Regions from separate parts of the Homo sapiens genome. Here regions 1 and 2 are each linked to region 3. The links come from fine-mapping of genetic effects on gene expression. A gene starts in region 3. Each other region holds a variant in brackets. All regions are shown on one strand. Distances are from middle to middle.

Region 1 (8,172 bases), 29 kb after region 3:
AGTAGGCAGTGTGTGCAGTGTGGAGTAGGCAGTGTGTGCAGTGTGGAATAGGCAGTGTGTGCAGTGTAGAGTAGGCAGTGTGTGCAGTGTGGAATAGGCAGTGTGTGCAGTGTAGAGTAGGCAGTGTGTACAGTGTGGAGTAGGCAGTGTGTGCAGTGTGGAGTAGGCAGTGTGTACAGTGTGGAGTAGGCAGTGTGTACAGTGTGGAGTAGGCAGTGTGTGCAGTGTGGAGTAGGCAGTGTGTGCAGTGTGGAATAGGCAGTGTGTGCAGTGTAGAGTAGGCAGTGTGTGCAGTGTGGAGTAGGCAGTGTGTGCAGTGTGAAGTAGGCAGAACAGAGCCACACACAGCAGAGAGAGATCAACGCCGTGTGTGGGAGGCGGCCGCTGACGGCCGTAGCCACATCATCCAGGTTCTTCCTGTGGGGACTCACCTGTGTAATCCTCGAGGAAAACGACGTGCCTTTGGATGAGATAATTAGGTCCAGGCTCCCATAGGAAGCCCCAGAGGGAAGCCCCGCCTGGCCTGGGGGAGAGGCAGCCCCAGCCTCTAATTAGCCAGGATGACCTGATGAGTGGGGCAGGAGAGGAAGGCGGGAGCCCCCTCCTGTGAGAGCCTGGGTTGGGGTCTGTGATCGTGGGAGGGGAGGAGAGGGGAGGGGAGGGGAGAGGTGGGAGGGGAGGGGTGGGAGGAGAGGGGAGGGGTGGGAGGAGAGGGGAGGGGCGGGAGGAGAGGGGAGGGGCGGGAGGGGCACCCAGCCGTGACCACATCTTGCTTGTGCCCAGATGTCAGCGAGAGCAGCTGGCGGGAGAGACCTGCCCCAGGAAACGCTGGGCCCAGGAGGCCGCCCGGGGACCCCAGCACTGACCCGGAGGTTCTGCCGACCCCCGAAGGCCCGGAGTCTGAGACGAGCCGGGGCCCCAGAGCCTCCCCAACCAAGGCTCTGCTGTCCACCCCGGTGAGAAATGGCGAGAGCCACAGCCGGGAGGGGCTGGCCGGCCTCGTCCTGGATGCCGAGCGCACCCTCGGGGAGCTGGACAGAGACGCCCTCAGGAGAAGCCGCCTGCGGAAGGTGCAGACGTTCCCTAGGCTGCTGTCCGACAGCCCCGAGGCCACCCTCTGCCTGCCGCTGACCCGCGGGAAAAGCCAGCTGCCCATATCGGAATTATTCTCTCCGGACCCCAGGAAGGCCTTTCTGGACAGGAAAAATGGCCTTTCTAGCTTCCAGGCTCAGCCCAAATGCAGGCTGTGGCCGGAGCAGGAGCCGGAACACCAGCTGGGACGGGTTCCCTGTGCAGGCCGCAGCACGGACAGGGGCCCTGGGGTGCCCGGCAGTCCAGGACAGCCCGAGACTTCACACCCCAGCCAGGGGCCAGCAGAGGCCCCTGCAGACCCTCGAGATGCTAGCGGTGAAGCCCAGACTCCCAGGGACGATGAGAGAATTCCAGAAGGAGCTAGGCAGCTGGAAAGTGCAGCCGCGGAGCAGGTGGGTGCCTGGGTCTTGTGTGTGGGTGGAGGGGTCGGCGGTCAGTGAGTCCGGGGCCGGGCCTCTCCACAGATGCAAACGCTTTGTTTAACTCAGAGAATTAACCTTCACCCTCGCTCCATAATTAAAGACATTTTCATTGAGCTGCCCCGTTTCTGAAGGAAGCTGTGGCTGCGGCTGGGGATGCTGTCACCCAGGCGTGGCCTCTCGGGTAGACGTTTGCCTCTGGATGACCCAGAAAGCAGCCGCCTCCTCAGCCCTGCCCGGCTCCTCACACAGCCCCGCACGGCCGTCCCGAGGGATTAATTTTCTTCCGGGAAGCAAGGCCAGCAGCCCCGGCTCCGTGATGTCATTTCAGGGGCTCCGTGTCCCCAGTCCTGATGCTCACAGCCCTCCTCATCTTCCTATTCTGACGGTTTAAAAGTTAGAAACCAAAGCTGTGGGTTGAGCTTGCTCATCTGTGGGGCTTGGTGGTGTCGGTGCTGGGCCACCTCCGCTGCCTCCGCGGGGACGCTGGGATCTGGTGCGGCTGCCCGGACGTGGCCTCCACACAGGATGGGGCCTCCCCAGCCCAGTGCTGCCCCTGGTCAGCTGCTCCTCACGAGGGATGGAGGATGCTGTTGGAGCCAGTGTTCTGGGGGGCCTGGTCCGTCGGCCCCTCTGTCCAGCCGAAGACGCTTGGGCCAAGGCCTGGCCAAGTGCATTTTGCCCTCCTTGGCTCCTCAGTGAGCCACCCCCAGCTGTGTCCCCGTGAGCTCCTCCGGGCAAGGTCACCTGAAGTCAGTGGCCTGCATGCAAGTCCATCTGCCAGGCAGCGCCTGGCCCGGGGACGGGGGTGCCCTCAAGCCACCAGGCCTCGTTGATCTGAAGGACAAGGGCGCAGTGCCCCGTCGCCCTCCACCACTCTCCCTGGCGGCACGCCTTCCCACGCACAACAGCCTACCTTCCCGAAGGGCACACGGAGGCACAGGGTGGCCGAGCCACCTGTTGGAGGGTGGACTTTGGTCCCAGCTGTCCGTGAGGCCTTGGAGTGGAGAGTGGCCTCCCAGGCTGAACGCATGCCTGGTGTCACGGTGTGTGTGTATGTGAGAAAATGCACCGAACAAAAGCCACCACTTCAACCCTCTGCAAGAGCACAGCTCAGCGGCATTGGGTGTGTTCACGCTGTTGCACAGCTGTCCCCATCAGCCCACACGAAACCCCAACCCCCGAGCCCGCCCCCTGCACCCCGTCCCGCCCTCCACCTCCATGAGCCTGGCCCCTGCACCCCGTCCCACCCTTCCCCTCCATGAGCTCTGTCCAGGGGCCTCGTGGGAGTGGGATGGACAGAGCTGTGTGTCTGGTCTCTTCACTGAGCCCACTGTCCTCACGGTTCCTCCCCAGGGAGCCTGCGTGAGAACCCCCCATCCCTGTCCCGAGGCCAAGCGCCATCCACACTGCCCCTGCGTCCGTCCGTGGATGCCTGGGTGCTCCCCGTGTTGGCTATTTCGAGCCGTGCTGCTGGGAACATGGGTGTGCACGTATGCGTGAGCCCTGCCCTCGGTTCCTCGGGGAATGTGGCCGTGTGGAACTGCTGTCACCTGGGAGGTGTATGTTGAGCTTTTCAAGGAACGGCAGCACTGTCGTCTGCAGTGGCTGCACCGTGGGACGTTCCCACCCACAGGGCCAAGGGCCCCAGTCTCCCCACGGCCCCCACACGCTGGAGTTGACTTAGGGACCTCCCTAGCCCTTCTATCAGGTGTGGGGGGCGCCTACTCAGGGGCTGAGTGGGCCTCACCCTGGCCTGTCCCCCGGACATGCCTCTCCAGGCGGCGGGCCCTGGCAAGGGGTGTCCACACTGACCTCGCCGCTCTCCTGCCCACAGTGGGTGTCCCTGCAGGACCTCCTGTCCCAGCTGGGCCGGCCCTTCCGGGAGTACGAGCTGTGGGCCCTGTGCCTGGCCTGCCTCCGCGCACTGCAGACACGCCCTGAGCACCCAGGTGACGCACGCACCATCCCATCCCCCCCGCCGTCCCCACCCCCCACTGCTGTTCCACCCCCCACCGCCGTCCCACACCCCCGCCGTCCCACCCCCCACACCGTCCCACGCCCCCCCACTGTCCCATCACCCCTGCCGTCCCATGCGTAACTGGCCCCCACCTGAACCAAGGGACCCAGGGGCAGCCAGGACAGTGTCTCCGGTGAACGGAACAGGCGGCTCCCGTCTGGAGCACCTTGTGGGTGCCTGCTGGGTTGCAGCACCGAGGGAGGTGTGGGGACAGATGCCTGCAAGGTGGGCCTTGAAACCGGTGACTGTGCCGTAAAGAGGAACGGGGACTTTGCCATGGCCCTCGCCCACACATTCTCAACACAGTGACATTGTCCCCAGGGAGGCAGCAATTGGCTTTGGAGTGGGGAGGGAATCTTCAGCATTGCACGGGTCTGCCCCGTCAAAGCCTAGCCCTGCCAGACATCAGGGCAGACGGACGGTGCATCTGAGACGTAAAAACGTCCTGGGGGTGATGAGGGCAGCATCTGAAAGGGCTGGGGGAGAGGCCATCGGAGACACACCCGGCTCCAGTGTCCGTCCACCGTGAGCCCGTGGCTGCCCCGTGGGCCCTGACTCGGGACGGGGCCTGTGACACGGGGGCTTCAAGTTACCGTGTTCTCCCTGCCGCTTGGCTCCCTTTCAGCCGCAGATATGCCGCTGCAGCCACTGTGTCGGCTGGGGCAGCGCTACCCTCGGGGAGGGCTGGGAGGAGGCAGCTCCGAGGACCCCGGGGGCTGGGGTCAGGCCATGTGCGTGCACTGGCAGGTGCGTGCCCGTGCAATGGGGAGGCTGGGGGGCTGCCCGGCCTGACTGAGGCTCCGCAGCTCCTTCCCCCCAGCCAGCCCCAAGTGCGGGGCAGCATGCATACCCGCCCTGACCCAAGCTCTGCCACAGCCTACCTGTGTCTGGACTCCGTGCTGGTTGCTGAGGACGGGGCTGTGCTCTTCCAGCCACCCCCTGCCAACGGTGAGTGTGTGGGTTCCCCTCAGGCCGAGTCCAGCACCGGCTCGCCAGGGGTGAGGAAAGCTCAGTCGGGTTTCTCTCTTAGGTTCCTATGACTCGTTCTTTCTGGCTCCCGAGCTGGCAGAGGAGAGGCTGGTAACTGAAAAGGTACCCGGGCCCTCCCCACCCTGCCCCAGCCCTGCCCCCAGCCCTCGGGGATGCCACGTCCCCCATCTGTCCAGCAGCCCCCCATCAGGACTCGAGGGAGTCAGGGCAGCCCTTCCTGGCCAGGCGGCCACAGGCGGTATCTGCCAGCAGGGCCGTGGCTCTGGCCGGGGCACCAAGACAGGGCTTGGTGTGGACGGCACTGGCCATGTGCACTAGAGCTGCGCCTCCTGGCT[C/T]ACGAGAACTAAGGGCTAAACAACCAGGGATGTGTATAAGGCACCTGTGAAACATGAGCATTCTTAAAATTTAAATTACACAAATTTAAATACAATTCAATAAATTACATTCAAAATCAAGGTAAAACTTCCACTCAGGAATGATAGAAATGTGTACTTCCCGCTCCTCCCACCGAGGAAGAGCACTAAGTACCCTACACTAAGCACCCTGCACTAAACAAACACCCTGCAATAAGCACCCTGCGCTAACCACCCTGCATTAAACACCCTGCAGTAAGCACCCTGCACTAAACACCCTGCACTAAGCACCCTGCACTAAACAAACACCCTGCACTAAACACCCTGCAGTAAGCACCCTGCACTAAGCACCCTGCAGTAAGCACCCTGCACACTGTGCAAAAAACAAGCACCAGGCCACCTGCAGGGGGAGGAGACGGCAGCCGGCGAGGGGCCTCTGGACCAAGGAACAAGGCAGCCGTGAGTGCCCTGGGTTTTCCTTCTGCCTCACATATTGAGACTTGGAGGTAAAGAAGCCGGTGACCGGGAAAAAGCAATGGGCGCACACTAAAAGCCGCGCTTTTTCATCTTCTGGGGATGTTGTCTAGAGAAACTCGGAATGGTCCACCATTTGCCAAACCATCGAAGGCTTTCCTGCAGTCTAGCCTGTAACGAAAAGAGGCTGTCCTGAACCCCAGCAATAGATCGTTCACCTTTACACCAAGAAGGCTGGGAAAGCACTGTCATCTGCAGGTGGCCCAGGCCGACCTCAGGGGGTTGGTGCTGTGAGACCTGAAGCTCTTATGAGATTGTCTCAAACAAAAACCGCGTCCGTGAGGCTGCAGTGGCTCTGTGTGCACTGTGTGTGTTCCTGTGGGATCCCTTCAGGGTTAGTGCTTTCCCCTTCAAGGAACGAAAATCGCTGGGAAAGTGCTGAGGCACAAGCACAGAGTCAGAAAACTAAGAAAAAATGAAGCTTTTTGGAGTAATAAAAAAGAGTTTAAGCCCCAACTGGCCGGGCATGGTGACTCACGCCTGTAATTCCAGCAATTTGGGAGGCCAAGGCGGGCAGATCACTTGAGTCCAGGAGTTCGAGACCAGCCTGGGCAACATGGCGAAACCCCATCTCTACTAAAAATACAAAAATTAGCCGGGTGTGGTGGCACGTGCCTGTAATCCCAGCCAGGTGTGGTGGCACATGCCTGTAATCCCAGCCAGGTGTGGTGGCGCATGCCTGTAATCCCAGCTACTCGGGAGGCTGAGGTGGGAGGATTGTTTGAACCCAGGAGGTTGCAGTGAGCCAAGATCATGCTACTACACTCCAGCCTGGATGACAGAGCCAGACCCTGTCTCAAAAAATAAATACCCCAACAGGGCCGGGTGTGGTGGCTCACACCTGTAATCCCAGCACTTTGGGAGGCCAAGGCAGGTCGATCACCTGACGTTAGGAGTTTGAGACCACCCTCGCCAACATGGTGAAACCTCATCTCTACTAAAAATACAAAAATTAGCCAGGGGTGGTGGTGTGCACCTATAATCCCAGCTACTTGGGAGGCTGAAGCAGGAGAATTGCTTGAACCCAGGAGGCAGAGGTTGCAGTGAGCAAAGATGGTACCACTGCACTCCAGCCTGGTTGACAGAGTGAGACTCAGTCTCAAAAAAATAAGTAAAACAAATGCCCCAACAAAAGCCTGGGTCTGTAATCAGAGGACCAGGGAGGACCAGGATGCATTTACACCCCCTGCTCTGCACCAACCAAACCCCACAGGAGCACTGCGGCCCCGCCCAGCAAGGGCCGAGCCTGGAGCCTGGACTCATCTTTGTGAGACTGCAGAGAAGTGTCCAGTGCCTGCCCTGGCCCCAGGTGGCCTCAAAGAAAGTGAGCAGGAGCCAGGACCTTCCTTCCCTGCAGCGTGTCCTGCAAGGACAACTGGAAATCATGGCTGAAAGGAATTGGAGACCACACCAGCAAGTGGAAACACATCCCATGCTCACAGATGGGCAGGATCAGTGTTGGTAAAACAGCTACACTGCCCAAAGCAATCCGCAGAGTCAATGCTATTGTTATCAAACTACCAATGTCATTTTTCACAGAATTAGAGGAAACTATTCTAAAATTCATATGGAACCAAAAAAGAGCTGAAATAGCCAAAGCAATTTTAAGTGAAAAGAACAAAGCCAGAGGCATCACGTTACCCAACTTCAAACTATACTACAAGGCCACAGTAACCCAAACAGCATGGCACTGGTACAAAAACACATAGACCAATGGAAGAGAATAGAGAGCCCAGAAATAAGGCTGCACGCCTACAATCATCTGATCTTTGACAGAGCTGACAAAATCAAGCAATGGGGAAGGACTCATGATACCAAGAATCAGGAAGATGTCAAACTGAATGAAAACAGGCAACCAATGATACCAACCTGGAGATGACAGAAATTTTAAAAGTGACTTTAAAATTTTTAAAGCAACCATCATAAAAATGCGTCATTGGGCAATTGCAAACACGCTTGAAACAAATGAAAAAGTTTCAGCAAAGAAATACAAAGTTTCAACCAAGGAATAGAAAAGAAAAAGAAAAAGCTAATGGAAATTTTAGAGCTGATTTTTTAAAAAAACTCAATGAATGGGCTTAATAGCAGAATAGAGAGGGCAGAGGAAAGAATTGGTGAAATGGAGACAATAGAAATTACACAGTTTGGACAACAAAGAGAAAATAGACCAAAAGAACTGAACAGAGCCTGAGAAGCTTGTGGGACTATAATAAAAGATCTAATATCCATGTCATCAAAATCCTGGAAAGAGAAGAGAAGGAGGGTGGTGCATAAAAAGTACTCAAAGAAATAATGGCTGAAAACTTCCAAATTTTGGCAAGACACATAAGCCTACAGATTTCAGAAGGTGAGAAAACCCCAAACATGATCAATGCAAAGAAATCCACACCAGGACACATCATAGTCAAACCTCTGAATACTAACCCTCCCCTCTCCGAAAAAATAAAAATAAAAATAAAAAACAAAAAGAGAGAGAAACAGCAGCTTACATATATACACATATGGGGGGGGAAAACAGTTCAGATGATCAGATTTCTCATCAGTAACTGTAGAGGAAGTGCATAGCATTTTTTTAAGTTCTGAAAGAACTTTCAACCCAGAAACCTATTTCCAGCAAAAATATCCTTCAGAAATTAAGGAAACAGGCTAGGTGCAGTGGCTCAGGCCTGTAATCCCAACACTTTGGGAGGCTGAGGCAGGTGGATCACCTGAGGTCAGGAGTTTGAGACCAGCCTGGCCAAGATGACGAAACCCTGTATCTACT
Region 2 (8,172 bases), 62 kb after region 3:
TCCACTAAAAATACAAAAATTATCACATCTGTAATCCCAGCACTTTGGGAGTCCAAGGCGGGCAGATCACGAGGTCAGGAGTTCGAGACCAGCCTGACCAACATGGGGAAACCCTGTCTCCACTAAAAATACAAAAATTATCACGCCTGTAATCCCAGCACTTTGAGAGGCTGAGGCAGGAGAATCACTTGAACCCGGGAGGTGGAGGCTGCACCGAGCCGAGATCGCGCCACTGCACTCCAGCCTGGGCCACAGAGCAAGACTCCATCTCAAAAAAAAAAAAAAAAAGAGTCGATCCGGGGCATGGCGTCCAGCTGGACTCTGCAGCCTTGGTTTCCACCAAAGGATGGCCCAGGCCAAGGTGATTCCTCAGGGACAGGCAGCTACAACAGGAGGGGTCAGCTGAGTTCTCCAGAATCTTCCTGAAGCCCTGGAAGTGGATCCAGGAACGCAGCCCTTTGGGACTGCTCAGAATAGGAATCCTGCTGGGTGAGGCATTCACCACCCATGGGGTGTTCCAACCAAGGCCAGCAAGGTCGTCACCGCCAGCCACAGAGCCCCGGAGGAGGGGGCGGCACTCAGGCACCCACCCCGGACTGCACCCAAACACTCCTGCCACGGGCTTGGCGCAGCGGGTTGGGGGGTGGGCACGGAGCTGCCTGTGGCTCCCCATCTGCCTGTGGACACGACAGCGGCCTCTCCCTGGGTGGGGTCGCCTTTCCCAGTCCTGAAGCTGCCTGGGGAGGTGCATCCAGGCACAATCTTGCTTTTGAGAAGTGAGGGTGGACTTCTTTTCAAGTCTTTCCGCGTATCAGGCTTTGCTTTTATTTTGTTTTATTTCAAGTCATGCCCACCCCGTCCCGCCAGCCCAGCCCCTCCACGGCCACCGCTCACCTGCGTCCACACAGCCGCTTCCTTTCCACACACGTGATGCAGCACACGCTCTTGTGTCTTGGAGCTGGGTGATTTTAACAGGTTCTCAAATATTCCCTTTGTTCATCTTAAACCAGAAGACGCTGAATGTGTCATTTTCTTATTGCAGCTGCAGGTGAACTTGCTGTCCAAATTTTTGCTGATTGCAAAATCTTGCTATGAGCAGAGAAACTTCGCGACAGCCATGCAGATCCTGAGCGGGCTGGAGCACCTGGCCGTGAGGCAGTCCCCTGTGCGTCCCCCTCGGGCCCCAAGGCGGGGGTGGGTACCCGCACGGCCGCAGGAGGCTCACCTGTGCTTTCATTTCAGGCCTGGAGAATTCTGCCTGCAAAGATAGCAGAGGTCATGGAGGAGCTGAAAGCCGTGGAGGTACCAGCACTTTACGTGGCCGGGCGGCTTTGGTCCCCCGAGGCCCTCTCCTAAACGAACTGCTGTGCAGAGCCTGCCGCACCCAGACGCAGGCACCACAGAGTGTGTGCAGGTGGCCCAGCCAGGGTGGCCTCACGGAGGCCTTGGAGTCATCTCCCGGCAGGGCCTCTGTTGCCACCTGGGCAGAGGTGTCCCACCTGCTCGGTCCCGGGGCCTTGCTGGTCTGAGTTCCTCACACAGAGCACAGGTGCCCAGAGGACAGCACTGAGGTCTGTGGCTGGGGCCTGAGCTTGACCGACCTGGACCTCCTCCAGGACGGCAGGGGTGGCCTCATGAGATGATGAACAAGGAATTGCTGCTGGAAGTGACCAGCCATCCCCAAACATGACTCAGACGAGTCCCAGAGCAGCCACAGCCTGTCCCCGTCTTGGGTCTCAGAGCTCGGCCTCAAGCCCCAGCCACAGCTGTCCACGGGTGGGACGGCTCCTGCATGTCTTTGCTGGACACGCAGACACGGGGCCCTGCTCTGGTCAGCCGGGGTCTCATTTAGGGAAGCTGGGTTACCTGGCACTTCCTGGAGTCCAGCAGAGAGCAAGGAAAGGGACTCACCATTTCAGCAGCAGGAGGCACAAAACCTCCCAGCGGCTGTCAGGGCCGTGAAAGCTTAAGACCCCGCAGGTGTGAGCCAAGTCCAACCATCCAGGAACATTCGGGACTGGAAGCTAATTCAGAGAGCCGGGTAGACCCCGTGCGTGGAGAACGCAGGACCCGCTGGGACTGGTTGGGCTGCGCTGGCCCCGGCTGAGGCTCCTGCACTGACCACGCCCTGTCTCTCCCCGGCCCACGCCCCGGCTGGACCACCAGGTCTTCCTGAAGAGCGACAGCCTGTGTCTGATGGAAGGGCGGCGCTTCCGGGCGCAGCCCACCCTGCCCTCGGCCCACCTCCTGGCCATGCACATCCAGCAGCTGGAGACAGGCGGCTTCACCATGACCAACGGGGCCCACAGGTGGAGCAAGCTCAGGTGAGGAGGGGCTCAGGCGGCCGCGCGCCCAGGAGAGGAGGGGCTCAGGCGGGCGCGCGCCCAGGAGAGGAGGGGCTCAGGCGGCCGCGCGCCCAGGAGAGGAGGGGCTCAGGCGGCCGCGCGCCCAGGTGAGGAGGGGCTCAGGCGGGCGCGCGCCCAGGAGAGGAGGGGCTCAGGCGGCCGCGCGCCCAGGTGAGGAGGGGCTCAGGCGGGCGCGCGCCCAGGAGAGGAGGGGCTCAGGCGGGCGCGCGCCCAGGTGAGGAGGGGCTCAGGCGGCCGCGCGCCCAGGTGAGGAGGTGCTCAGGCGGGCGCGCGCCCAGGAGAGGAGGGGCTCAGGCGGCCGCGCGCCCAGGTGAGGAGGGGCTCAGGCGGCCGCGCGCCCAGGTGAGGAGGGGCTCAGGCGGCCGCGCGCCCAGGTGAGGAGGGGCTCAGGCGGGCGCGCGCCCAGGTGAGGAGGGGCTCAGGCGGGCGCGCGCCCAGGAGAGGAGGGGCTCAGGCGGCCACGCGCCCAGGTGAGGAGGGGCTCAGGCGGGCGCGCGCCCAGGAGAGGAGGGGCTCAGGCGGCCGCGCGCCCAGGTGAGGAGGGGCTCAGGCGGGCGCGCGCCCAGGAGAGGAGGGGCTCAGGCGGCCGCGCGCCCAGGTGAGGAGGGGCTCAGGCGGCCGCGCGCCCAGGAGACGAGGGGCTCAGGCGGGCGCGCGCCCAGGTCAGGAGGGGCTCAGGTGGCCGCGCATCCAGCAGAGGAGGGGCTCAGATGGGCGCATGCCCAGGTGGGGCACGCTCAGGTGGCACCTCTCCTCCTGTCCTTGCTTTTCAGAGGCCTGGGTACCTTGCCCCTCACTTGGCACTCACAGCCTCAGACCTCCCTCTACCCAAGATAACCTCCAGCCACCTCCTTCTCTGCAAATCTGGAGCATTTCCTGCACTTCTGCTGTCCATGGTCCCAAAACACTCCCCGTGGTCTCTAGGGACCCCTGTGTTGGGACCCAGGCACACTTTCCACCCCACCCTGAGGGTCTCTGCAGCACAGAGGCTGCCCGGCAGCAACCTGTCCTGACCGCTGGGTGCCACAGTGTCCCTGCTCCCCTTGAAACCCCTCTCCCTAGAGACATCCAGGTGGGACCCAGGATCAGTCCTCAGCCTGTTCCTGTGGTCCTGCTGTCCACCTGCCCAGCACCTGGGACCAACTACCTTGCACACCACCTGGGAGGCGCAGACTGGGGCTGGCTGTAAAACCTACCACCACGACCCACAGGGCTCACACCCCAGGCCACACAGGCTCTTCCACCTGGTAAGGCACAGGGGCCAGCCTCTCCTTGGAGCCCCAGGCCTGTGTCCGATGACCCTCAGGTGCCCACAGCCCCAAGCTCGGCCTCACTCTCTCCCTCAAGACACAATCTCCCACCCTCCCGTCTCATCTCATCGCCTGCCGTTGTCCACACACGGTCAGGTGGAGGCTGCCCAGGCCACGGCGGCTCCACCCTCCCCCACGGTAGATGGCCTCACTTGGGGAGCAATGCTCAGCGGACCAGGTGCCCATGGATCCTCAGCCTGATAGGTGAAGGTCCCCTTCTTAGATAGCCACCAATTTAAAAACAATAATTATAATATGCCATAAATGTATGCTTATCGTAAGAGATCAGAAAACCCATGTCAGCAAAAGAGAAGTTAAAAACTTAAGGTAGGCCAGACGCGGCGGCTCACGCCTGTAACCCTAGGTAGGCCGGGCTGGGTGCAGCCACTCACGCCTGTAACCCTAGGTGGGCAGGGCTGGGTGCAGCCACTCACGCCTGTAACCCTAGGTAGGCCGGGCTGGGTGCAGCCACTCACGCCTGTAACCCTAGGTGGGCCGGGCTGGGTGCAGCCACTCACGCCTGTAACCCTAGGTGGGCCGGGCGCGGTGGCTCACGCCAGTAACTCTAACACTCTGGGAGGCCGAGGCGGGCGGATCACTTGAGGTCAGGAGTTCAAGACCAGCCTGGCCAACATGGTGAAACCCCATCTCTACTAAAAATACAAAAAATTAGCCGGGCGCGGTGGCGGGCGCCTGTAGTCCCAGCTACTCGGGAGGCTGAGGCAGGAGAATGGCGTGAACCCGGGAGGCGGAGCTTCCAGTGAGCCGAGATCGCGCCACCGCACTCCAGCCTGGGCGATAGAGCGAGACTCCGTCT[C/CA]AAAAAAAAAAAAAAACTTAAGGTGATGCTCAATCAGGAAAGAAAACAAGCCAAGAGTGGCACTTGCTCTCCACAGCGTCCACGTGCGTATGTGAGCGCCTCCAGATCTGCCCTTCTCAGCATCCCCATGTGTGTGAGAGCCCATCCAGGCATGCTCTTCCCGGCGTGTGTGTGTGTGTGTGAGAGCCCATCCAGGCATGCTCTTCCCGGTGTGTGTGTGTGTGTGTGAGCCCATCCAGGCATGCTCTTCCCGGCGTGTGTGTGTGTGAGAGCCCATCCAGGCATGCTCTTCCCAGTGTGTGTGTGTGTGAGAGCCCATCCAGGCATGCTCTTCCCGGCGTGTGTCTGTGTGTGTGTGAGAGCCCATCCAGGCATGCTCTTCCCGGCGTGTGTGTGTGTGTGTGAGAGCCCATCCAGGCATGCTCTTCCCGGCGTGTGTGTGCATGAGAGCCCATCCAGGCATGCTCTTCCCGGCGTGTGTGCGTGTGCGTGAGAGCCCATCCAGGCATGCTCTTCCCAGTGTGTGTGTGTGTGAGAGCCCATCCAGGCATGCTCTTCCCGGCGTGTGTGTGTGTGTGTGAGAGCCCATCCAGCCATGCTCTTCCCAGTGTGTGTGTGTGTGAGAGCCCATCCAGGCATGCTCTTCCCGGCGTGTGTGTGTGTGAGAGCCCATCCAGGCATGCTCTTCCCAGTGTGTGTGTGTGTGAGAGCCCATCCAGGCATGCTCTTCCCGGCGTGTGTGTGTGTGTGAGAGCCCATCCAGGCATGCTCTTCCCGGCGTGTGTGTGTGTGAGAGCCCATCCAGGCATGCTCTTCCCGGCGTGTGTGTGTGTGAGAGCCCATCCAGGCATGCTCTTCCCGGCGTGTGTGTGTGTGAGAGCCCATCCAGGCATGCTCTTCCCGGCGTGTGTGTGTGTGAGAGCCCATCCAGGCATGCTCTTCCCGGTGTGTGTGTGTGTGAGAGCCCATCCAGGCATGCTCTTCTCGGCATGTGTGTGTGTGTGTGTGTGAGAGCCCATCCAGGCATGCTGTTCCCGGCGTGTGTGTGTGTGTGTGAGAGCCCATCCAGGCATGCTCTTCTCGGCGTGTGTGTGTCTGTGAGAGCCCATCCAGGCATGCTCTTCCCGGCATGTGTGTGTGTGAGAGCCCATCCAGGCATGCTCTTCCCGGCATGTGTGTGTGTGAGAGCCCATCCAGGCATGCTCTTCCCGGCGTGTGTGTGCATGTGTGTGAGAGCCCATCCAGGCATGCTCTTCCCGGCGTGTGTGTGCGTGTGTGTGAGAGCCCATCCAGGCATGCTCTTCCCGGCGTGTGTGTGTGTGTGAGAGCCCATCCAGGCATGCTCTTCCCGGCGTGTGTCTGTGTGTGTGTGAGAGCCCATCCAGGCATGCTCTTCCCGGCATGTGTGTGTGTGAGAGCCCATCCAGGCATGCTCTTCCCGGCGTGTGTGTGTGTGTGTGAGAGCCCATCCAGGCATGCTCTTCCCGGCGTGTGTGTGTGTGTGAGAGCCCATCCAGGCATGCTCTTCCCGGCGTGTGTGTGTGTGTGAGAGCCCATCCAGGCATGCTCTTCCCGGCATGTGTGTGTGTGAGCCCATCCAGGCATGCTCTTCCCGGCGTGTGTGTGAGCCCATCCAGGCATGCTCTTCCCGGCGTGTGTGTGTGTGTGTGAGCCCATCCAGGCATGCTCTTCCCGGCGTGTGTGTGTGTGTGTGAGAGAGCCCATCCAGGCATGCTCTTCCCGGCGTGTGTGTGTGTGAGAGCCCATCCAGGCTTGGCCTTTCTTTGCCGTAATGGACGCCCCTTTCTTTGTCCCTCACACTGGGCATGTGGTGTTTCCATCCAAAATCAGGACAGGGCGTCTGTCTGTGGCATCAGTGTCCCCAGGCCTGGCTGAGGGCTCCTGCTCGTGACTGGCCAGCTTTCTCCATTATATTCTATGGTGTGCTGGTCACTGTCAACCAGCTGTCCCAGGCTTCCGGCCCTGGGCCCCGGCCGTGGCGATTCCCAGGTGTGAATGTGAACGCTCTGCACGGCAGCAGAGAGTCCCTTGCCTGCCTCGTCCTCTCAGCTGCAGCCCCTGCGGCAGACTGGGCTTGACTCTTCTTGGGACGCTCAGCAGGGACGAGCCTGAGCCTGCAGGGTTTCCATAAGCGTGTGTGGACTGAAATGTGGATGGATGGACAGTCAGACAGACGGAAAGGTCTGAGTAGTGACCTTTCCACCTCGCCAATAAATACAGACAACCCACCCTTCAGAATTTACACGGTGAAAAGATTTAGTCCAAATGATTCCTAAGAACGCGGGGGGACTCCCTCCCCACGGAAGCCGCGCCCCTGCCCTGTGCAAACTAACGTCTCTTCTTTCCTCAACGGAAGGAACATCGCAAAGGTGGTGAGCCAGGTGCACGCGTTCCAGGAGAACCCTTACACCTTCAGCCCCGACCCCAAGCTCCAGTCGTACCTCAAGCAGAGGATTGCCCGCTTCAGCGGTGCCGACATTTCCACACTCGCCGCAGATAGCAGGGCCAACTTCCACCAGGTCTCCAGCGAGAAGCACTCACGGAAGATTCAGGACAAGCTACGGAGGATGAAGGCTACATTCCAGTAGCCGAGCTCGGGCCTGGTGTGGAATTCCAGATCCGAATCCGACTGTGGGGGGCGGGCTGGGAGGTGGGAGCCGCGTCTCAGGCCCGGCCGTTATCAAGGCCCCTCCGCCCCCGAACCCTGGGGAGCTGGACCAGGAGGTGGAGGCTCAGGGGACCCCATGGGGACAGGCAGAGCTGGTCTCCTCCCAGCAGACGGAGCCAGGACGGGCACAAGAGTCTTGGAGGTTTGCGTGTTTCTGCTAGAATTAAAAAGTTAAATTTAAAAATGAAAATGAAAGACAGCTTCCCAGGAGTTTTGTGCCTGTCTGCGCCTCTCACACACAGATAAGTGGCTCTTACCCAGCTCTCAGTGACTCCCCCACAAAACAGCAACAGCCTCCACCGCCAACTCAACAAACTTCAGAGTAGCTCCTCCCTGAGCAGGTTTCTGAGCCAGCCTGGGTTGGCTGAGCAACGAAGGGCCAAAGCTGACCTCTGAGTGGCCAACTGCAGCTCCCAGGGACTCCGAGACCTCCGGTCCGAGACCCTGCCTGGGTTCACCCCCCACAACCCAGACCCAGAACCGCTCTCCCCTTCCCTGCCCAGTGCCCCTCCTCCCCAGCCCAGACCCCCAGGTGCCCAAGGCCTGCTGCTGGAGCAGGCACCTTGGGCTGGGCCTGCTCCCCCAGGGCCCAGGGCCCCCCAGCTTAGAACAGCCCTTGGTGAGGTGGTCATGCCCGGGCAAAGGCCCTGCTTCCTGGAAAGGACACTCAGAGCAGCTCCAAGACAGAGGCTCTGTGGCGGGGGTCCCTGAGAGTGCCCCCACCCATCTCATGCCCCAGGGACCGCCACTGCCCACCGCCTCCAGCAGCCATGCATGTGCGCCCGCAGCCCTGCCTCCACAGCTCGCCACACACTCACGCTTCGCCAGAGACAGGAAGTGCGCTGCCTCCACGGCCCCTTGCCCTTGCTCAGGTTCTTGGACCCCAGGCAGCTGGTGTGGAGCCCCTTGGCCAGGGCCATGGGAGTCCCGCGCAGTCAGCTCCACATTGGCCTCTGCAGCTGGGTGACCAGAGCCCCGGGCACGGCCCCA
Region 3 (8,172 bases):
GGAAAGAGAACCTCCACTGTGGGGTATTGACGTCGTTGGAAAGAGAACCTCCACTGTGGGGTATTGACGTCGTTGGAAAGAGAACCTCCACTGTGGGGTATTGACGTCGTTGGAAAGAGAACCTCAATTGTGGGGTATTGACGTCATTGGAAAGAGAGCCTCAACTGTGGAGTATTGATGTCATTGGAAAGAGAACCTCAACTGTGGAGTATTGCCATCATTGGAAAGAGAACCTCAACTGTGGGGTATTGACGTCGTTGGAAAGAGAACCTCAACTGTGGGGTATTGACGTCGTTGGAAAGAGAACCTCAACTGTGGGGTATTGATGTCGTTGGAAAGAGAACCTCCACTGTGGGGTATTGACGTAATTGGAAAGAGAACCTCAACTGTGGGGTATTGATGTCGTTGGAAAGAGAACCTCCACTGTGGGGTATTGACGTCATTGGAAAGAGAACCTCCACTGTGGGGTATTGACGTCATTGGAAAGAGAACCTCCACTGTGGCGTATTGACGTCGTTGGAAAGAGAATCTCCACTGTGGGGTATTGACGTCGTTGGAAAGAGAACCTCCACTGTGGGGTATTGATGTAATTTAATACAATTCAGTAACAATAATCAATAAATTACTACTACCCATAACAACATGGTTGAATCTCAGAGACACTGAGGAAAAATGCACGCACACACACACAAATACACACACACATACACACACACAAATAAACACACACACAAATACACACACATAGACACAAATACACACACATACACAAATACACACACACGAATACACACACAAATACACACACATACACAAATACACACAAATACACAAATACACACACATACACACAAATACACACACATACACACAAATACACATACACATACACACAGACACAGAAATACACACACATACACAAATACACACACAAATACACATACACACATACACACACAAATATACACACACATCCACACAAATACACATACACATACAGACACAGAAATACCCACACATACGCACACATATACACACAAATACACACACGCACAGAGGGACGGGGGTTCCGTCTGCTCCCAGCCGCATTGGTTCCCCCGTGGGGTGAGCCTGGCAGGACAGGGCCAGCCCAGCGCCCAGAGACAAAGTGAGGAGACCGTGTTTCCGCCAGAGCCACAGGGCAGCTCCCCGCAGAAGCCAGTCGTGGTCCACGGTTCCCGCGTGCCGGCTCCCAATCTCTAACAGGAGCACCGCCATTTACTTCCACATTTCCTTTTTTTCTTTACTAAATATCTGATTTATTAAAATTTACATGTGTATTTGTTGCAAAGTGTGATGAGGAGCCAACAGAAACTCGGGCATAAAAATAATTCATCGTCAGATACAATCTGGGCAAAAACCAGATGGCTATGATGCGTCTGAGGAAAAATGTCAGCACGAAGATCTCGGACTGTTAGAGAAGAATGTGTTTACGAATTCTTTAAACGACTGACAGTAGGTATCAAAACCATTTTGGCATTTAGCTTCCTAGATACATTTACAGGAGTGACTAACAATTTTACTTCAAAATGTGAGTATTTACATCACACCAGAAATGACATTATTTGCCATCATTTACATGTCTGGATTTTTTAAGAAACCTGGATGTTGACGTCAACATGTGTGAGTGATTTGGCAGCTTTTCAAAATTGTTTTAGGGAAAACGAGAGCCAAGGCCCTGAAGACCCCTGCTCCACCCGCCTCAGCACGCAGCCCAGTCCAGCTGAGCGCCGACTGTGGGAGACCGAGTGAGAAGGACAAGGCCGATCCTGACAGCGTCCGGGTGTGACAAGGGCCCGGTAACCCCCTCGGAGCAAGGTCTCAGGAGAAGCATCTGGGAGTCCTACCCTGGGCCCCTCATGGAGGAGGGAGGGTGGGCAGGGCCTGGGCAGGGAGGGAGGAACCAGGTTCCTCACTCCAGCCAGGAGCCACAGTTCAGGCTGTTGCCTCTAGCAGAGGGGAACGTCTGGTGGGAAAGGGCAGTGGGGTGGGGCAGAGGATGGGTAGAGGCCATGGAAGAGTTGGAAGAGGACGAAAGTGCCACCAAGTCATGGCCCTGGACCACGGACCTGATCGTGCAGCTGGGAAGCCCCTCAGAATTCCGACACCACCACAAGCATCCTCGGGAGGAAGCTGTGCCAGCACATGCTGGGCACACAGGGCTGGCACCGAGAGGCAGGAGGGCTTGATGAGGAGGCCGTTCCTTGTGGCTCACGGAGGGCTCTTGGCCGTTTCCGCGTGGCACCCAGAAGCTGCTCACCAGCTCTAGAAGACGTGGGGCGATGAATCCAGACCCTGGAGGAACTGCGCCCTCGTCCAGCATAACTGAGGTGCCAGGACACAGGACCGACATCGCACCCTCCACTTGGGTCAAAGCTTTATCACTGCAGGCGAGTGTGCGGGCGCCCGGGACAACTCGCAAAACGTCTGGAAGTTCCCACCACTCCCCAGAACAACAGAGACCAAAGCCCACAAATCTTTAAAGGAAAGCAGCAGGTGCGTAAAAGAAAGAGCCTGCGGCCCCTGCCCGAGGCCCCTCCCCACGTGCCCAGCCCTGAGCAGCAGCAGCGCTGAGTGACCCAGGTGTGGGAAATGCCTGCTGAGGGGTTTTAGGCCGCAACAGCCGAAGCTGACACGGCCGACTCCAGGAGCCTGTGAGTTCTGCATTTTACCAACCGCATGCACGTCTTTCCAGGAGTGCTTGCCCTATGGCTGCCCCCCAAATTATGGGGTTACCTTTGCCCCCTATTCAGTGTCTATATCCTCACCCCAAGCCCGTGAGGTGACCTGGGCACTCGGTGACAAAGTCCTGTGCTTGTGGGGTCCCTGGTGCCTTCCCTTTGGGGTCACGTCAGCCCGGCGTTCCCCCGGAGGCACAAGTCTGGGTGGCAGCTGAGAGGCGTCAGGGGCACATCCAGACCTGACAAAGGAGGCGGCCCCAGCCCTGCAGCAGAGGGCCCAGGAGCCCAGGGGCTCAGCTCCAATGTCCAGGTCTGAGCACCAGGGTGCAGCGGGATCAGGCTCCTGGAGCAGAGTCTGCCTGCCACTTCCGCCTCCTTCCAAGACAGGGACTGGGGCGCTGCAGGCCCTGTGGGGCCCACAGAGAGAGAGCTCAGGGACAGCTGGCTGAGGCCACCCTCTGTGAGACTCCTCCTCTCCAGCTCCAGCCCACTCCACCTTGGCTTGCTGCCCAAGCTTCCAAACACCCAAGGATGGGGGAGGCTGCACCTGACTGCTGACTCGGTGGACCAGGGTGGGCCCCAGGGTGGGCATTTTCAATAAGGTGGGGCTGCCTGGCTGGACGCAGGGAGTCTGCCCAGCACCTGCCCCACTCCCAGCCTCCGGCTTCAGTGCCCACCTGGCTCCCGGGGAGCTGAGCCCCTGAACTCCCTGCCAGGCCAGAGTGACAGCCCGGGTGACCGACCAGGGGACAGAGTGCTGGGAATTCACGTCCCTGAACACACTGCACCCTCCCACTCTGCGGTCAAAAGCCCTGCTGCTCCTTCAAGCCAGGAGCATGGATTAAGTACCTACTGTGTGCCTGGCCAGCCACACGGACGGGGAGCTGACAGCCGGGCCCTGAAGCCGCCCTCTCTCCTGTGGGAGTTCTGGGGGTGGCCGGGGAAGGTGAGATTCTCCTCCACCCTCCCTGCCTCTTGGCCGAGCTTGGGGCTATCCTGGCTCTTCTGACCGCGGCACTACCGTGGGCCGGGGTCACCCTGGCGCTGAAGAAAGCCCCGGGGGGCCTTTGGGGCAGGAAGAGGTCAAGAGCCCCAGGACCCCCCAGGGTCCCCCAGGACCGGGGAGGGTCGGGTGCCCAGTGGGTCTCTCCGATGCCTCCAGGTGGGGATGAGGCAGCGTTATTGCCCCACCCCCAACATCCCCGGGCCTCCGAAAGACCCTCGCTCAGGAGAGACCCCGGCCCAGCGACCGCCCCGCCCCCCACCCCGGGCCCCGCCCCCCACCCCGGGCCCCGCCCGGCCCTGCCCAACGCCGCTGCAGAGGCCACCCCGGGACTGCGGCAGCCCCGCCCGGCAGCAGCGGGGGTGGGACGGGGGCGGCGGGAGCCGGCGAGGGGGTCTGCCCGTCCGAGCTTTCCTGGGCGCCGGCTCCGCCCCTCGACCCTTGGGGCCCAGGTGGGGCGCAGACCCCGTGGCTCCCCGCGGAGGCCACACGCCTGGCTCCGCCCCCGGTGCCTCCCCCAGGAAGGAGCGACGTTCCCTAGGCGCCGGGTCCGGACAGCGCCGCGCAGCCCCCGCGCACCCCGCGCCCCCCGCGCCCCCCGGGCCCGCCCCGTATCCCTGACCGCGTCCCCTGGAGACACTGCGGCAGCGGCGGGCGGGCGGGGGCGGGCGAGGGCCGGGCGCGTCTCCATGGAGCCAGGGCGCGCGTAGCCGAGCCCAGCCCAGCCCAGCCGGAGGCCCCGGGGGCGGTGCGCGGCGCGGCCGCAGGATGCAGGCCATGGACCCGGCCGCGGCGGATCTTTACGAGGAGGACGGCAAAGACCTGGACTTCTACGACTTCGAGCCGCTGCCCACCCTCCCCGAGGACGAGGTGAGCCCCCGGCCCCACTGGGGGGCCCCTTCCGCCGCCGAGGGGTCCGCGGAGAGCGCCCGGGGGGAGGACCCGGGAGGGGCTGTGAGCTCCCGCCTCCCCAGGCGCCCTCCATGGCCGAGGGGTTCCCACCGCCGTTCTCAGCCCCCGCGTTAGGATTTTCACCCGGAGGGGACAGCACCCCCGAATGCGCACGGGACGGCGGCGGGTGGGCAGCCCCTGCAGAAGTTGGTGCGCGGTAGCTCCTGGTGGAAACCCTGGCGGGACAGTGTGGGGGCAGCAAGGAGGACGGAGGGGGGTCTGCTTACTCCCTGCCGGGCCCCAGGAGGCCAGCGGGGTGCAGAGCAGCAGAGTCCAATCAGGCGCCGCTCAGGAGCTGGGGGATGAGGTCCCCGGAGCTGAGGTTCAGGAGCGGGGGGTGGGGGGAGCGCTGGATGACTGCCCCCCGAGACTGAGAGCTGCTTCCTGCTCTCTGGTTTTCCGGGCCTTCACCCAAGACCCCCCTACCCCGCAAGGTGCAGAGGGGCTCTGCCTGCCATCTGCATACCCTGGCGCTTCTGCTCATGGACCGCCCACCCTACAGCACCGGCTGCCCAGACGCCACCTTGGCTGGGTCTGACCCTGTAGCTCAGCTCTGGCTTGGCTGGGATGGAGTGGACAAGCCAGGCCCGGAAGCATGAGAGGTGGCCCCCAGGGGATACAGCAGCTCCCAGAGGGACCCTCACCCTCCAGGGATCCGAGATCTGCCAAACCTCCAACAGGCAAGAGCCCAGACGCTGGGCGCCTGCGTCTCCGGGTGACAGCGTCGTCACCTGCAGCCATTAGTGGGATGTTGTGGCGCCCTCTCTTTAAAGCCGGCCAAGTAAGCCTGGAGCAGGGAATCCCGGCTGCAGCAGCCGCGGGCCTGACCCCCTCGCAGTCCCCACCTGCTGCCCCAGGGGAGTGGGCTCTGAAGGGACCGGGAGTTTCTGCTGTGGAAGCACCGTCCTTCTGGGAAGGTTCAGCCCCAGGAGGCCCTCGGCCCAGCCACCTAGAAACAGCTGAGGCTGTGCGGGGGTTGGCGATGCCCCCGCCCCCACCATGGCCTGGATTCGGTGCAGTTGAAGGCTGCAGAGAGGAGCAGCCAGGGGAGGCAATAAAGCTTCCAAGATCACCTCGGCTCTGACCGAGAGGGAGGGGCAGCCCGCAGCCTTCAGAAACGCCCCAGGACACATCCCAGGGTATCTGTTAGGAGGCGGCCCTGAGGACGCAGCTCTTCCCACAGCTCCTTCGTGCATCAGAGGCCTGAGCCTTGAGGGCCTCCCCGCTCCGCACACGGAGGCAGCAGCCGGTGCCACGCACACAACACGCCGCGCCAGGCGCGAGCCCACTTGGAGCCACAGGCTGTCTTTCTGCACACTCCCCACTCCCGCTCCCCACCCCCACGCACACACCAGTGTCCTCGGGCCGGCCGGACAGCTCCCGGCCGGCACAGTACTGGGGTGGGTGGCTCCATCCTGTGACGTCCACCAAGGCCTCCAGGTGAACTGTCATCCCACCGAGTTTGCAGCGTGCAGTGGGAACGTTCAGGTGGGCCCTTCGCAGACACTCCTGGAAAGCATCGGGTGGTCCCTGGCCCAACCCTGTGCCCAGTACTGAGCCCAACACACCCCATGTCTCAGAATTCCCCTGGCGTTCAGACTCTGCTTCCCACACGTGTTTGGCTTGGAAGGTTCTGAAATCTCCATCGGGGCACCTGACTTGCATGGGAAAACCGTCCTGGGTGAGGTGAGGGCACGGTGAGGTTGCATCATCATCCCAGAATGCCGGAAGGCCAAGGGTGCAGGGCAGCTGCCGGGAAAGCACGGTGGCGCCAGGCCCAGGACATATGCAGGCTTCATAAGATGTAGGAACTCACTCATTCTACAGCTAATTATAATGGCTGGCTCCATGATGGGGTCAAGAAATAGACCCCTATGGACACCCACCGGAGCCCCTGGAATGTCCCTCCCTTGACATGGTCCCAAAGAAAATCCAAATGGCTGCTGAACATGTGAAAAGATGTTTGCTCATTGCAATCAGGAAAATGCAAAATACACCCCCACGAATGCCTTCCCAAGACCGCCAGGCTGGCAAGAACTGAAGAGCGGACAGCGGCTTGTGCTGGCAAGGACGGCGCAGCAGCTCTCCCTCGCGCCAGTGGGAGGACAAATGGAGCAGCCTCTTTGGAAAACAGCCCAGCATTCGCTGGTGAAGTAGAAGGCACCAGTGCCCTGTGTCCCAGCAACTTCACTATGGTGTGGGCCCCAGAGACACGTGGCCGTGCGTGTGTGAGAACACTCTCAGCTGGAACCTACCAGAGCATCAGCAAGTGGGCCAGCAGGTCCTGGAGGAAGTGACCAGGTTGGATCCCAGTACAGGCAAAGAACCACCAGTACACGATAGACAGGGAGATGTTCTGTGGGGGTGATGCAAGGAGGGCTTCCTGGAGGTGTCCTGCCCGGGATTCCCATGAGATTTCAGTCACTGTGGATGGGGGTATGGGATCTGAGGCAGAACAGTGCAATCCAGGCAGAACAGCGGCTGCAGAAGAGGCACACAGTCCAGGCGGCTGGAGTCGATGGATGGGCAATGCTGGCTGCCCCATGGGAATTCAGATGAGACGAAGAGGGTGCACCGGTTTGGGTGCCAGAGCAGGACGTGTCCCGGGTCCCTGAGAGGCAGGCAGCACTATCATCCCTCCCAGAGTTCAGCAACTGCCTCCCAGAACCTCCTGTGTGCCGGTGTCAGGCTGGGCTCAGAATCTGAGGCTGGACAGGATGCAGTTGCTCCCTGGAGGGGCACACAGCTGGGGGCTCCCAGTAAAGAAGAGGACGTCCCCGCTGCAGGGTCCATATGACATCTGTGCCAGGATGAGCTCAGAGCAGAAGGCACCTCGGGAGCAGAGGTGGTTTTGTGGTGGGGGCCTGGCAGTGTGAAGAGAGCTGTCAGGAGGCCTGGGGATTGGCAGCCAGTGCTCCCAGCTGTGATTGGAGTTTTGTATTAGTCCTGTTAGAATCCCACGGCTGAAAAAAATCAGTTGGTCATAAGACAGTGTATTTCAAATGCGCCACACGATCTAGGCGTCCCTGTGTAACCCTGGCTCGAAGTCTGCCTGGCAGTGTGGCGGGGGGTGTGGGAGCTTTCTGAATGCACAGGGCCCCTAATGGGGACCTGCCATGAGATAAGGGTCCTCGGTGGGAAGCGTGCCCTGCCCTCTGAGACCCAGGGACTGGCTGATGTGCTGCTGCCCTGGAGAGCAGCCCAGTCCCGGGGGTTCATGTCCACCTGCCTTCCCAAATCCCTCCTCCCACCTGGGATGGGGGTGGAGTTCGTGGCCACCTGCCTTCCCAAATCCCTCCTCCCACCTGGGATGGGGGTGGAGTTCGTGGCCACCTGCCTTCCCAAATCCCTCCTCCCACGTGGGATGGGGGTGGAGTTCATGTCCACCTGCCTTCCCAAATCCCTCCTCCCACCTGGGATGGGGGTGGAGTTCATGTCCACCTGCCTTCCCGAATCCCTCCTCCCACCTGGGTTGGGGGTGGAGTTCGTGGCCACACA

The links. PIP is the estimated chance that this variant, and not a neighbour inherited with it, causes the effect. A credible set is the group of variants that fine-mapping cannot tell apart.
Region 1: its variant is the best candidate, but not a certain one, in a credible set for the expression of KNDC1 in whole blood (TOPMed, PIP 0.77).
Region 2: its variant is the best candidate, but not a certain one, in a credible set for the expression of KNDC1 in whole blood (INTERVAL, PIP 0.67).

The regions. Positions count from the first base shown.
Region 1 is chr10:133,185,191-133,193,362 of GRCh38, forward strand. It overlaps KNDC1 (kinase non-catalytic C-lobe domain containing 1), which reads left to right. Exons shown (of 30, transcript NM_152643.8): 6 at 784-1,484; 7 at 3,349-3,463; 8 at 4,408-4,479; 9 at 4,562-4,623. Among named protein-coding and RNA genes, the nearest start is that of KNDC1, 29 kb to the left of the region's middle. The variant C/T (reference allele first, on the strand shown) is at 4,857.
Region 2 is chr10:133,217,789-133,225,960 of GRCh38, forward strand. KNDC1 (kinase non-catalytic C-lobe domain containing 1) reads left to right here. Exons shown (of 30, transcript NM_152643.8): 27 at 1,043-1,165; 28 at 1,243-1,302; 29 at 2,167-2,324; 30 at 6,871-8,172. The coding sequence ends at 7,102. LOC105378573 (a long non-coding RNA gene) reads right to left here and starts at 1,049. Exons shown (of 5, transcript XR_007062351.1): 1 at 895-1,049. RefSeq lists an enhancer at 7,307-7,930. The variant C/CA (reference allele first, on the strand shown) is at 4,494.
Region 3 is chr10:133,155,977-133,164,148 of GRCh38, forward strand. KNDC1 (kinase non-catalytic C-lobe domain containing 1) reads left to right here and starts at 4,243. Exons shown (of 30, transcript NM_152643.8): 1 at 4,243-4,593. The coding sequence starts at 4,492. RefSeq lists enhancers at 4,614-5,203, 5,204-5,794.